Regions from separate parts of the Homo sapiens genome. Here regions 1 and 2 are each linked to region 3. Evidence: fine-mapped expression QTL. A gene starts in region 3. Each other region holds a variant in brackets. All regions are shown on one strand. Distances are from middle to middle. Region 1 has its middle 56 kb from the start of OLFM4. Region 2 has its middle 56 kb from the start of PCDH8. Region 3 holds the start of OLFM4 (olfactomedin 4).

Evidence for each region. PIP is the estimated chance that this variant, and not a neighbour inherited with it, causes the effect. A credible set is the group of variants that fine-mapping cannot tell apart.
Region 1: its variant is the best candidate, but not a certain one, in a credible set for the expression of OLFM4 in whole blood (TOPMed, PIP 0.67).
Region 2: its variant is the best candidate, but not a certain one, in a credible set for the expression of OLFM4 in caudate (GTEx, PIP 0.72).

Annotation. Positions count from the first base shown.
Region 1 is chr13:52,970,767-52,975,008 of GRCh38, forward strand. No RefSeq gene overlaps it. Among named protein-coding and RNA genes, the nearest start is that of OLFM4, 56 kb to the right of the region's middle. The variant G/A (reference allele first, on the strand shown) is at 1,933.
Region 2 is chr13:52,902,353-52,906,594 of GRCh38, forward strand. No RefSeq gene overlaps it. Among named protein-coding and RNA genes, the nearest start is that of PCDH8, 56 kb to the left of the region's middle. RefSeq lists an enhancer at 3,719-4,242. The variant C/T (reference allele first, on the strand shown) is at 2,345.
Region 3 is chr13:53,026,687-53,030,928 of GRCh38, forward strand. It overlaps OLFM4 (olfactomedin 4), which reads left to right and starts at 2,127. Exons shown (of 5, transcript NM_006418.5): 1 at 2,127-2,354. The coding sequence starts at 2,151.

The DNA.
Region 1 (4,242 bases), 56 kb before region 3:
GTCTTTATTTATATCTTTATTTTTTTTGAGACAGGGTCTCAGTCTGTTGCCCAGGCTGGAATGCAGTGGCACAATCATGGCTCTCTGTAGCCTTGACCTCCTGTGCTTAAGCGATTATCCCATCTTAGCCTCACTAGTAGCTGGGATCATGGGTGTACGACACCATACCCAGCTAATTAATTTTTTTTTTTTTTTAAGACACAAGGTCTCGCTATGTTGCCCTGGTTGGTCTTGAATTCCTGGGCTCAAGCGATCTCCCTGCTTCGGCCACCTATGTCAGTGTGGCCTTGGAGACAACCATGCAAGCCTATTTTAAGAAAATCTGCTACATGAAAAATGGAATTTATAAAACCAGGAAATGAGGGCATGGCCACTCTTTTGGCACCCTAGCCCACCCCCACATGGCAGCTCAAAAAATTTTTAGGAAATTGTACATGAAAGCCACACATTTATTTTTTCAGCATTGGCAATGATGATTATTTAAGTGTTTAATCACCCAATGTTCACCCCAAAGTGCAAAGGATTCCTTCCAGATTCCTGTAAACCATGAACTTTCCTGGGAATATTTTTGGTGTTTTTAAATTTGCTCACTGTTCTTTTTAGGTGCTTCTCTATGGAGTGACCAAGGACGCTCTTAGGTGGCACAGAGGGACACTTGGATTGGAAAAGTTTGGGGAACATTAACACAGCCAGGAGGCCTGTAATCCAGGGTGGCTGGTTTGGAAGAGCCACTGAGGACATTCTGCAAATTAGACATTGCGCTTTTATCTACCCCTTGCCCTCATTAATTTTCCCCAATACATTGTTTTCCCAGGATTGCAATGAAATGTACCTTGTTCATGATTTGTCTAGTCATAATTAGAGTCTTCCTTTCTCTTGTTAGACAGTAATGCCAATAATGACTGCAAACATTTTGTCTCCTTTTAGAAAGGCACAGAGCCAAAATCATTATATCTGTGAGTTGATGTCAGATTTATAATGCAGAGATGCAAGCTTCACACTCCATATGTATGCCAAATTTTTATTAATCCTTTGGAAGGTTTAAACTGTGCATTAAGAAGATATCCTGTTTTTTTTTTTTTCCTGATGATTTTTTTTTTGGTCTTATTTATTTGTGCCGAAAAGCCAGAGCTTTCTGTTTACCATGACTCATTTTTAGAGGAGGTGAGTGGGAGTAAAGAGAGATGCAGGGAAGAGGAGTGGTAATGTGAAAAGTGAAGAGGAAAGATGGGTAAGGAAGGGTCTAGGGAGAATTGTAAAGGGAGAGGAGGGAAAGCTTAAGGGAGGAAGGAGGAGAGACTTAGGAACAAAGACAAGAGGTGGTGTGGGTGTGTGTATGTGTGTGGTGTGTGTGTTAGGGAAAATAGAGCGTTTAGAAAGAAACAGACAAAACAGAGGGAAAAGTTAACTTGATTGACTTGTTTTGGCCAGTTATCTTCACCTGTGCTTATACTCAGATATGCCAAAGAATAGTTTAAAAATAGACTGAATTTATCACATGTGGCTGAGCAGATTGCTCCCAAGGGAGTGTTTTCCTGGGCCCAAATTGTAGGATCCCACCAATTTTGCACTGCAGAAGAGGTAATTTACTTCACACAAGTGAGCACTTGGCTTCCCAGGAGAGTATTTCTTTCTTTCTGGCTCATGACAGAATGGGGTCCAATATTCCCAGCCTTGTTGGTGGGAATTACAAACCCATAAACCAAGGAAGGGAGATAATGAATGGATCTTGATATTACTTGGATGCGAGAAAGACAGCACCATCTTTTCTAGACTCTTGACTTGGGCACCCTAGCCCACCCCCACATGGCAGCTCAAAAAATTTTTAGGAAATTGTACATGAAAGCCACACATTTATTTTTTCAGCATTGGCAATGATGATTATTTAAGTGTTTAATCACCCAATGTTCACCCCAAAGTGCAAAATTCTCA[G/A]TTCCCTCCCAAGCCACTGGGAAAATAGGTTTGGAGTCTGATGAGCTGCCTGCTGCTGGCTCCCCTGTTTTCTGGCATCAAGGTTTCTCAATAGTGAACTCAACAGTTGCATTTTCTTTTTTTCTTTTTTCTTTTTTTTTTGAGACAGAGTCTCACTCTGTCACCAGGCTGGAGGCACAATCTCGGCTTACTGCAACCTCCACCTCCTGGCTTCAAGCGATTCTCGTGCCTCAGCCTCCCTAGTAGCTGGGACTACAGGCATATGCCACCACACCCAGCTAATTTTTGTGTTTTTTGTACAGATGAGGTTTCACCATGTTGGCCAGGATGGTCTCGATCTCCTGACCTCGTGATCGGCCCTCATCGGTCTCTCAAAGTGCTAGGATTACAGGCATGAGCCACTGCGCCCGGCCAACAGTTGCATTTTTCACCTGGTTTACTATCAGAAAACCAGGGAGCAGATAATTGTATTTCATGAGTCGATGGTGAAGGTACTCAGTTCCAGCCAAGGTCAAGAGGCTGATAATGTTCAACCAGGAGAAACAGTTTGTGTGAGAGAATTCATTTCCAGGTGCTCATTTTTACTGGAGGAAAGAATCTCACTTGGATTCCTTTGTATTCTTCTCCAACATGAAACAGAAAGTTCAGAATCCTCAGCCACTCTGGGGACCCTTGCTGAATTGGTGTGAGTGCAAGACTTCCCGGAAGACTAGAGGCTCTGGCTTTTAGGAGGATTCTCAACTTTCACGGATCTCCTCAAACCTACTAAGAAAGAAAATAAAAGTACGTGCCTGCAAATATCCTCCTCGATGGGCAGCAAATGTGCTGGGACCTTGCCACCTGGTTGTATTGGACAAGGAAATGAATGTCACCCTCCAGTCACACACAGGGCTGCTCCTGCCTCTGTCTGGAGCAAAATCAAGATGCTTCCCCAGAAGTGCTCCAACTGCCCCATGTGTGCCAGGCTTAGCCATCTAACATGTATAAATATCCAACATTCATCCCTCCATATTATAGATCAGCATTGTGGTCTATAATTATCTACCCCCCAGGATGACTCTGCAGTTTTCTGGGATTCCTGTTTTGATCATTTTCCAATGGAATTTGAGGAAGAGAGAAAGGGGAGACCTAGACTCCCCTCTTTGCTCTAGAAAAAAATGCACCAAAACAGGGTGAGAATGAAGGCAAACCTGTGAAGCCTGTGAATCTGTGAATGCTGTTCCACCAACTTGGAACACCCTTCTCTCTCCTATCAGCACCCGTTTACCTCAATTTTATTCATTTGTCAAGACTTATTAAGTCTCATCTGCTTCATGAAGACTTTCCCATCTATGTGTTCTCTCCCTCCCCTAGTCTCCTATGGTACCTACAATCTCTACCAGAATCTAATGTGAATGCAGACCATGTCTTGTATTTCTTCTCTCCTCCTTGCCTCCTTCCTGTGCCCCACACGGTGCTGGTCCATAATAAGCTTCAAGCAGTGTTTGTTGATCGACAAATTAAGATGAGCTCATTCTCCTTTCTGTAGCAGGAAACTGGAGCCATAGAAGTCATATTGCATGTCTCATGTGCAAGACTATCCCAATGGATTCCTGGGTCTGGACTTTCATTACAGGGCAATCTTAAGGGTAAAAGAATCTTCCCCTGTCCCCATCCCTCTTTTATTCTCTCTACTATTATTTTATATAGACGAGGTTGAGATAAAATGATGGTGATATGAGAAGGGCAGGGCCCCAGGCAGGGGGAAGGTCACCAAAGGTGAAGCTTGAGACAGTGTGTGGAGTCCAACTTGTTGAGCTTTCTGATGGTGGGGAGTGTGTGAATGTGTCTTGGGATCAGGCTTTTCAGAGGTCACTCTTCAGTCCTCCCAGAGACCTCTAAACAAATAGTGTGATTACAATGAGAACCTGAATGAACACCAGGAGGACAAAGAGCAGGGGCAGCCACTCTGCTATTAAGATTGGTGATGGTGGGCTGGTCATGGAAAGATTCACAGGGGAGGAGACCTTTAAACTGGGTTGCAAGACTGTGTCAGAGTCATGGTCCTTTAGCCTCATCAGTAGGAAGGGCTCCTAAAAGTCCTACAGAGGGATGCCCTGGTTCCAGGGCCCTGGATAGTGGCACACATGGGTACCTGTAGCACGAGTGCTCTCTCCTGGGCTGCCACAGACCCAGGAGCTTGGAGCGAGGCGGTGGGGTGCTCTGGTGATTTTGCCACCCTGTTCCCCAGGTACACAGAGCTGCCTCAGAGTCTTCCAGCTGCCTTGCTTGGGGACAAGGATGGCCAAGGCTGGCTGCTGGTGTTGTAGT
Region 2 (4,242 bases), 120 kb before region 3:
TAATATAGTTTTTTTTTCCAGACCAGAAATGGTATATTAAAAAATCAGCAGGCATAGAGCTTGTTTTAAAATTATTATTACTTTACTCTGGCTTTGCAGGCTTTTATTTCTTTCTCCTGCTGCTATTCCACAGAAATATGGAATAGTCTATCCAGAAAGAACTTTAGAGATCAGTGATTCTGTCTCTGCATTTCACAGGTGAGGACACTGGTGTTCGAAGACACAAGGTGACTTGCCCTGAGTGGAGGGCCTGGAGCTGGTACCCAGGACTCCTGATTCTCAGACTCTGTACTTCCCATTGAAAATTTTTTTCTCCCAAGGAATCTAAGACCCAGTAAGGGATCTGGGGAAGTGGCCTCATGCATTCCCTTGTGCATGACAGAGAGAGTATCAGAGGAATGGGAGGTGCATTTGCATCATTTACATATGTGCCCACAACCTGATATTAGCCACTAGATTATATAGCTACCTTGAATTTGAAAGTCAATTCTGACATCGCGGTTCAGTCGGAAGCATCATTTGGAGGATAGCTGAGGCTTAGAATTTGTTCTCTAGGAAGTCAAAACCATCTGTCCTGCAAGTACCAATCCCATGTTTGGGACTGTAGGGAGCATGCCTTCTCTCAGGGACAGCATCTGGGGCTACGACCTATGCAGGTGCCCAGTGTCCTTTCTTAGAAGGACTTTGACTTGCTTCAATGCTCTGCTGTCACTCTCTTGGAAGTCTTAAAACAGAAAAAAAGGGGACCTGCACTTTGATATTGCACTAGGCCCCACAAAATATGGAACTGTTTTTTTCCCCCACATTCCTCATTCTCCCCCAGGCAGCCTTTGAAACCTTCTCCAAGAAACCTTTTCTGACTCGCCAAGAGTGTGTTATATATTGTAATGTTAATGTTACAATGCTAATCATGTTAATCTCCAACATTAATTGCCTTTTTTCTGTAGGCCCACCCTGTGAGATAGATACTATTATTGTCATCATACCACTTAGCAGATGAAGAGACAGGAGAGGACATTGAGGCTTAGAGAGATTAACTGGCTCAAGGGTACACAGCTAAGAATTAGGATTAGAATCCAGGTTTGTTTGCACAGCACAGAGACTTAACCACTGTGCTATATATACAACCTCACTGTGTTATCTGTTCAGCGCTTAACATTCTGTGATGTTTTCTCGCTTCCTCTTCTTGACTGCAGGGGAGAGACTGTGTCCTTTACTGCAAAGACTGTCCTTTATTCAGTTTCACCCAGCATCGTACCTAGCACAGACAGGGTGTTCAATGAATATTTACTTTCAAAGGGCATTTGGCTAAATTTAATGTGCATTTAGCCATATCGGAACTTCCTGAAAACCAGAGAAGCTTCCAGGTTTGTTTAAATTTCTCCTGCGTATGAAGCTGCACAGTATAGCTGATGTGAGTGTTGTGATACTTTATATTTGACTTCATGAATTATTTATGGAATTAACACCGGAATCATGATTAATTTGTGGAGGGAGAGAAGTTGCTACGTGGCTTGGTGCCCATGTTTTCCTGGCAGGGATAAATTACCTTCCCAGCAGCTGTGGGGTGAAGACTCTGGATTCTGGTTTCCAGGAGAGACAGACATTTGTGATTCCCTCTTCTTTCTCTTTTTCCCACCTGAAAAACCCAGGAAGCACAATTTATGCCATAAACCAGTGGCAAGTGCTCTATATCTGTCAGCAGTGAGCCAACTCAGCTTCCCCCAACGTTTAGTTAACATATGTCTCTTACGCACATACTGTGCACCATGTTAGGTATGGGAATACAAAACCAAGAAGGCTTGTTTCTGCCCTTAAGGAGCTTTCAGTCTGGCAAGTGGAGACAGGCACAGAAAAAGACAGTACATGATCAGATGATCACTGAGAAGACATGCATGTCCTCCAGTGCTGGGGGGAAATTCCTGGCAGCGAGGGTTCATGCCTATAAGGGCCAAAAGGAATTAGACTACAGACCAGGATTGGAGAAAGGCAGAGGGGCAGCTTTCCACTGGGGAGTAACTCTTTAAAGGCTGGAGAAGGACCTGTGAATAGTAGAAATGGCTGGCCAAGGGAAGGGAGCTCAGACAGGAGCTGGGAAATGAATGTTAATTGTGCCTCCAGCTCAACCCTGGAGGCTTAGGGTGGTGGATGAAGTCAGTATTGTCCATGACCAGTATGGCTCCTGTGTTATCATTAGGGTGGCTCTGCAGGGAGCAAGATCTCACCCCGCTGCAGGTGATCAGCAGCTCTGTGGGACCCCCACATCTCCTGTGGCCTCAAGGCGAGAAGGAGGAATGCATTGCCCAGAGCCGGAGAGCAGGGAGGGGCCGAGCTGAGTCGTCTA[C/T]GCTCCTGCTCCATCAGCAAGTTTGCTTTCTGAGACCTACTGTATAATAGCAATCTCTTTCCCATTTTCTTCAAAGCATCATGAGGAAATATAACTGCGATTGGGTTCAGCAGCCCTCACTTTTGAGCAATAAACTACAAATGATTACAGTTTACTTTGATGCTTTTGGAATTTTCCTACTAGCTGCAGTAGTTTCCTGCCATTTGCTAGCTGGAGAGTAGCCTGTGGACGCTCACTCAGCCTTTGGGATGAGCCCTTGCCTCTATGAGCTTGTCTTAACACGTTATTTATTCTGCAGCTCTTCTCCTGGCTTGAGCAGTGCCCTGGGCTCCGGGGCTACTATGACCGACCACACTTAGGGGGCCTAACCCTGCCGCCCCAGCCTTTGAGGGAGAAAAGATTGCTCCTGACTCCATTTATTTCCAGGTAGAAAAGAATCAGAGAGCCCTGCAGGGTGAAGGCGAAGTCGAGGTACTCCAGATAAGTGTTTTCTTCTCTCTGTATTACTTATTTATTAAAGGCAGTGAGGTATAACTAAGAGAAAGGAAAGGAACCGAGGAAATAGAGAATACAATGGCCCTTCAGATTTTAATGGGAGAGATGGCTGGAAGTGATTCCTAAATTATTAAATAAATCGATTTGATTCGTGAAGCTGGCCTCCAAGGTGTATTTGTCAGTTTCATTATGATTGTCTTCAAGGGTAGGAAGAGTCACTCATGGAGAAAGTTTGTTTTTTTTTTCCCCTCTATTTTGAAGGCTGCAATTCATGGCCCCTGTCTAATTAAACACTCACTGCTTTGTGTAACAGGAGCAGTAGTCTTTCAGTTTTATTTTGGCTTCTGTTCTGATCTCATTTGTCTTACAGGCCGATAGACATGCAGCAAGATCGGGTTGGCTGTGGGGCAGACACACTTTGGAGAATGTCGATCCCATTGCAATTATAGGACTGTTTGGTCACTGAGGAGTTCTATGGTAATTTATTCACATGCAAGAGTCCTGTCACTTAGCTATTTGTCTAGGGGAATCCATTGAGTGTTAGGATAATGGGTTGTGCCCTCCCAAATGACGAGAATAACACCTTAATGCATTTTAGGGAAGTAATGGATTTTATTGTGGGGTTTTGGTGGTGGCTGCAGTGGTGTTTGCTCCTTTCTCTCACATTTCCCTCTCTTCCCCTGAACACTTCTACTGCCTGCAGCCCAATGTAAAAAATGCCTGAACATCTAAATTCTTTTTCTTAATTATCCTCCTGAGGAAAGCAGGCCAAGCACCAGGGTGCAAAAAATTTAAACCATAAATAACAAGCTGAAAGGAAATAAAAGAAATGACACCAGAATAAACTAAGCTATTAACTGAAAGCTTTACATCACAGTCCTCCCTGGGCCTGAAAAAAAATCTAAAGGAAGGTGGTTAAGTATTTATTTCCCAAAGAATGTAATTATAATCTGCAGCAATTAAAAATGGATGAAGGAAACATTTCCTCATCATTTCCGGGGGGTACTTCAGACACCGGCGCAGGGAACATTTTGGAGAATGTAGTTCCACTGCTTCCCTGAGGTCAAGTGAAGCTGAGGGACACAGCTGGCTCCTGCCAGGGGCACTACTGCTGTCTGGGTCTAAGGGGTCGGAGCAGGGATGGGAGAATGGAGGTGAGCAAAATAATGGGTAGTGATCGATTTGCAAGATAAATGAGGGCTCCTCTCTGGACCCGCTGCATAATTGTTCCTTTCAACTCAGTACACCTGGTGTGAAGAACTCCAGTCACAACTGTAAACCTGCCAGGTTTCCAATTAGGGGCTTGAATTTCAATTTCCTGGATGCTCCCTTAATCTTGGGGATGGGGAGAAGTTGTGTGTGTGCTGCAACACAAAGCGCTGAAGGTGAGGGAAGGGACGGGG
Region 3 (4,242 bases):
GTAAGGGGTCTTCTAATGAATTGGCCATAGGAGACCTTAAAGGTAGTCATGACTACAGGCTATACCACTGTTAATGAGATTTTCTTTCTGACAGGGCACCAACATGCTCCTTGAAAAAAGGTACAAGGAAGGCTCATTACAGCCACATGCAGAGGCTACTAGCAAATGAGAACAGATTTGCCATTTGTTTTGGTGGGAATCGGGAGGAAGAGGGGAATTGTGCTGGGAGGTAGAGACACATTCTTCTCCTTATGTCCATATTCATTGCATTCAATCTTAGAATAATGGATTCAGTCTCCCAGTTTTCATTCTCACACATTCTGTATGCATTCCCTGCCTTGGACTGGGGATCTAAGTGGTTAGAACATTTGACCAAAGAGGCCAAGGCTGAACTGCTTCCCACAGAGAACAATGAACTTTACAGCCCACATTTCTCCCTATCTGTTCTTCTTCACTCTCTATCCATCCATTTGTGGTTTTCCTGTCTCCCCTTCCCCCTCCCCACCACCCCAGTTTCTGAATAGTGTACCAGGGGTTTAAGACCCTGTTTCTCACATTAGCACTGTGCTTATTCTGAGAGTTTGTGTGGAGCTTCTGGGGTGGGGTGGAGTGGGGCATGAACCTTCTCTCCTTGTTTTGAACCCAGCAATCTTACATATTGATCTAGTCTTTAGGAAATTAAACAAACAATGAAAAAGCTGACATTTTTATGGCACGTCAAAAGTCATAAGCAACTTCCCATACAATATTTCATTTAATTCAAACAATTTAGGAATTGTTACAACCCTAGAGGGGCTAAGTGACATGCTCAAGGCCACCGACTCATTGTGACACAGCTTTTTTGTTTGTTTTTGTTCTTTTGAGACAGCCTTACTCTGTCACCCATGCTGCAGTGCAGTGGTGTGAACATGGCTCACTACAGCCGCAACCTCCCAGGCTCAGGTGATCCTCCCACCTCAGCTTCCCAAGTAGCTGGGACCACAGGTGCATACCGCCACACTTGGCTATTTTTTTCATTTTTTGTAGAGACAGGGTCTCACCACATTGCCCAGGATGGTCTCCAACTCTTGAGCTCAAGCCATCCTCCCACCTTGGCCTCCCAAAGTGCTGGGATTACAGGTGCGAGCCAGCATCCCCGGCCCAGAGCTGGGTCTTAATACCGAGACTAACACCTTTTTCTTTCTCCAGGGAAGAAGGCAGAGGTCACAAAGGTGTGTGAAATGTTGAGCAGGGCAAATGGATCCTGGAGCCCAGGGTCAGAGCTGCTGAGCAAGAGAAAATGCATCTTATTTCTCAGTTTTATGAAGAATAAGCTTGAGATCTTGAATGCCTGGCTGGCTCACAAGAAGCTCAGGGGCAATAGAGGTCAAAGTTTTCTGGAGAGAGAAACTGCTCCTGGGGTCCTCCTTGACTGGGTTTGAGGCAGTGCCCTGGCCTGGGAGAGCGGGCACTGGGTCATCGGGATCCCTTTGTTTATTTGGGTGTTTTCTCTTCCCTATATGAAGCATACAGTGGTGAGTACTTGATAGGGCAGAGTCCTACCTGGTTGGCCAGGGAACAAAACGTTGCTGGTCTTTCCTTCAGAGTGGGGTTGTTAGACAACTTTGTCTAGAAACAGTCACTGTAAGGAACAGGTCAACGACAACTTGGGCAATAGGAACTGAAGAGGGAAGCTCAGTCGCTCCTGGAGGAGAGCCACAGTCCCTAAGGCAAGTTCCCTAACTGTCTGTGAAAAGTAGTATTCAGTAAAATGGGGGAGAGCACTAGAAGTGCTGTGAGGCAAAGGACTGAGGGTTGCTTTTCCTCCATGGAGCCTCCAAACTCTGTGTCATCCACAAAGACTACTTTGGTCTCATCTCTTTCAAGGAAGTACCAAGTGGGAAACCAAATATTGGGCTTTACAAAGCACATTTGAGTTAATGTTTGGCAGGGGATATCTGGATCCAAGGGCAGCTCACAGAGTGGGCCTCACTGACAAGGTGTGGGCCATGACTCAGATTCCTGGGTGTCCTGAACCTCCTGGGGCAGTTCACACGTTCCCTGGCCACTCCCTCTTTTCCTACATGCTGGCCATGGGGAAATCACCACTGGGCACTATAAGAAGCCCCTGGGCTCTCTGCAGAGCCAGCGGCTCCAGCTAAGAGGACAAGATGAGGCCCGGCCTCTCATTTCTCCTAGCCCTTCTGTTCTTCCTTGGCCAAGCTGCAGGGGATTTGGGGGATGTGGGACCTCCAATTCCCAGCCCCGGCTTCAGCTCTTTCCCAGGTGTTGACTCCAGCTCCAGCTTCAGCTCCAGCTCCAGGTCGGGCTCCAGCTCCAGCCGCAGCTTAGGCAGCGGAGGTTCTGTGTCCCAGGTGAGGAGGCCCCAGAATCTGAATGAGCTGCATTCATTCCCTTCCATTTGCTTTTGGGTACCTGAATACAATTTCATGGATGGCTAGACCTGGGCACTCTAAAAGATTTACGACTCATTTTGTTAACTATAGGTGCCCCGGAAATGAATTAAAGCCTCAGTAAAATAATTAAATTGTTAGCAAGAGAGACGATATCGCAGTTCTCCAGCTGGGACTTTTGGGAATATCTATGCTTTAGAGGAATTCTCAAATCTGGCTGCACATTAGAATGGGTGGCCGGGGGGACTCTAAAAGTACAGATGCCTGGGTTCTGTACTTAAAAAAATCCTACATAGATGTATACAAATCAAATATTTTAAAAAACCTCTCCCCAGGTGATTCTAATATATAGTCCAAGATGGGAACTGTTAGGGAAAGACTCTGTGAGTTGCAGCTCTGGGAAGTTTGTCCAGTTGTTTTGCTGCCTGGCAGGATCCCGGAATGGTGAACAGTAGCCCTCGAGGGAGTGAGAGCCGCAGTGCCCTAGTTGAAGCCCTGACCATTTCTCTTGGCCTGGTTTATAAAGGAGGTGGGTGTCAGAAATAAGGGGGGAGTTACTGGTCTTTAGCAAAGTGTTATTACCAGTGGACATTCGCCTAGGGGAGTGTTCACTCTTTGCAGTCTTCTTTACAGGGAATCTTCAGGACCATTTCCAGCTCCAAACAACAGTAGCAACAAACAAACAAAACCAAAAGTCATGCATTACAACGAGGCTGGTACAGCTAGGCTAAGTGCATTGAAGGCATAGTAAGCCAGTTCCGTGGGGGATGAGTCCTCTTTGGATCTCCTTTAAAGAAAGGAGAATGGGCTGGAGGGCATGAGAGGTTAGGAGGTAAGAAGCAGTTATTCATTTCACTCTGGGCCTTTCTGCGGGAACCCCACTCTGCAAACCTCCTAGGCTATTTTTGCTAAGGTATAACTTGGGGTGGGGGAGTCTTATCTGGGCCAAAGCTTCTCTCTCTAAGCCTCTAGGATCTTTCCTCACAGGTCAGGTAGCTGCTTACATTATCATGCTTGAATGGAAGGGCAAATGGGAGAAGGGGGAGGAAAAGACTTTTATTTGTTTTATTTTGACCATCAGAAATTACAGATAATAAAAATGTGATAATTAACAAATGATTTGGATAGGGCCTAGATAGAAACAGCAGCAATAACATTTACTGTGTGTCTAATAAATGCCAGGACTAGGTTAAGTACATAATATATATCTTTTTGTTGTTGTTGTTGTTTGTTTGTTTTTTGAGACAGAGTCTCATTCTGTCACCCAGGCTGGAGTGCAGTGGCACGATCTCGGCTCACTGCAACCTCCGCCTACCAGGTTCAAGCGATTGTCCCACCTCAGCCTCCTGAGTAGCTGGGATTACAGGCACCCGCCACCACGCCTGGCTAATTTTTGTATTTTTAGTAGAGATGGAGTTTCACCATGTTGGTCAGGCTGGTCTCGAACTCCTGACCTCATGATCTGCCTGCCTCAGCCTCCCAAAGTGCTGGGATTACAGGCATGAGCCACCGCACCTGGCCTGTATTATCTTATTTAACCCTAAGAGGTAGGTACAATTAATGGTCCCATTTTAGAGATGTGAAAACTAAGGCTTATCAAGGTGAAGTCATTAGTTTTAAGTCACTAAGCTAGCAAGTTATATAGCTCAAAATTAGTCTGTCCATTCTCTTCACCATGTCTGTACATATAGGTTTCTATATTTCCAAGGAGTATAGATGAAAATTGCTTATTTTTTAGTTAGAGGAGGGAGGCTTGGGAATCATAAGTAGGCACAAGGATTCTTTGCAGTCAGAAATCAGTTACATAAGTTTATTCTGTGATACTCAATGATTTCTGGGGATGATCAGA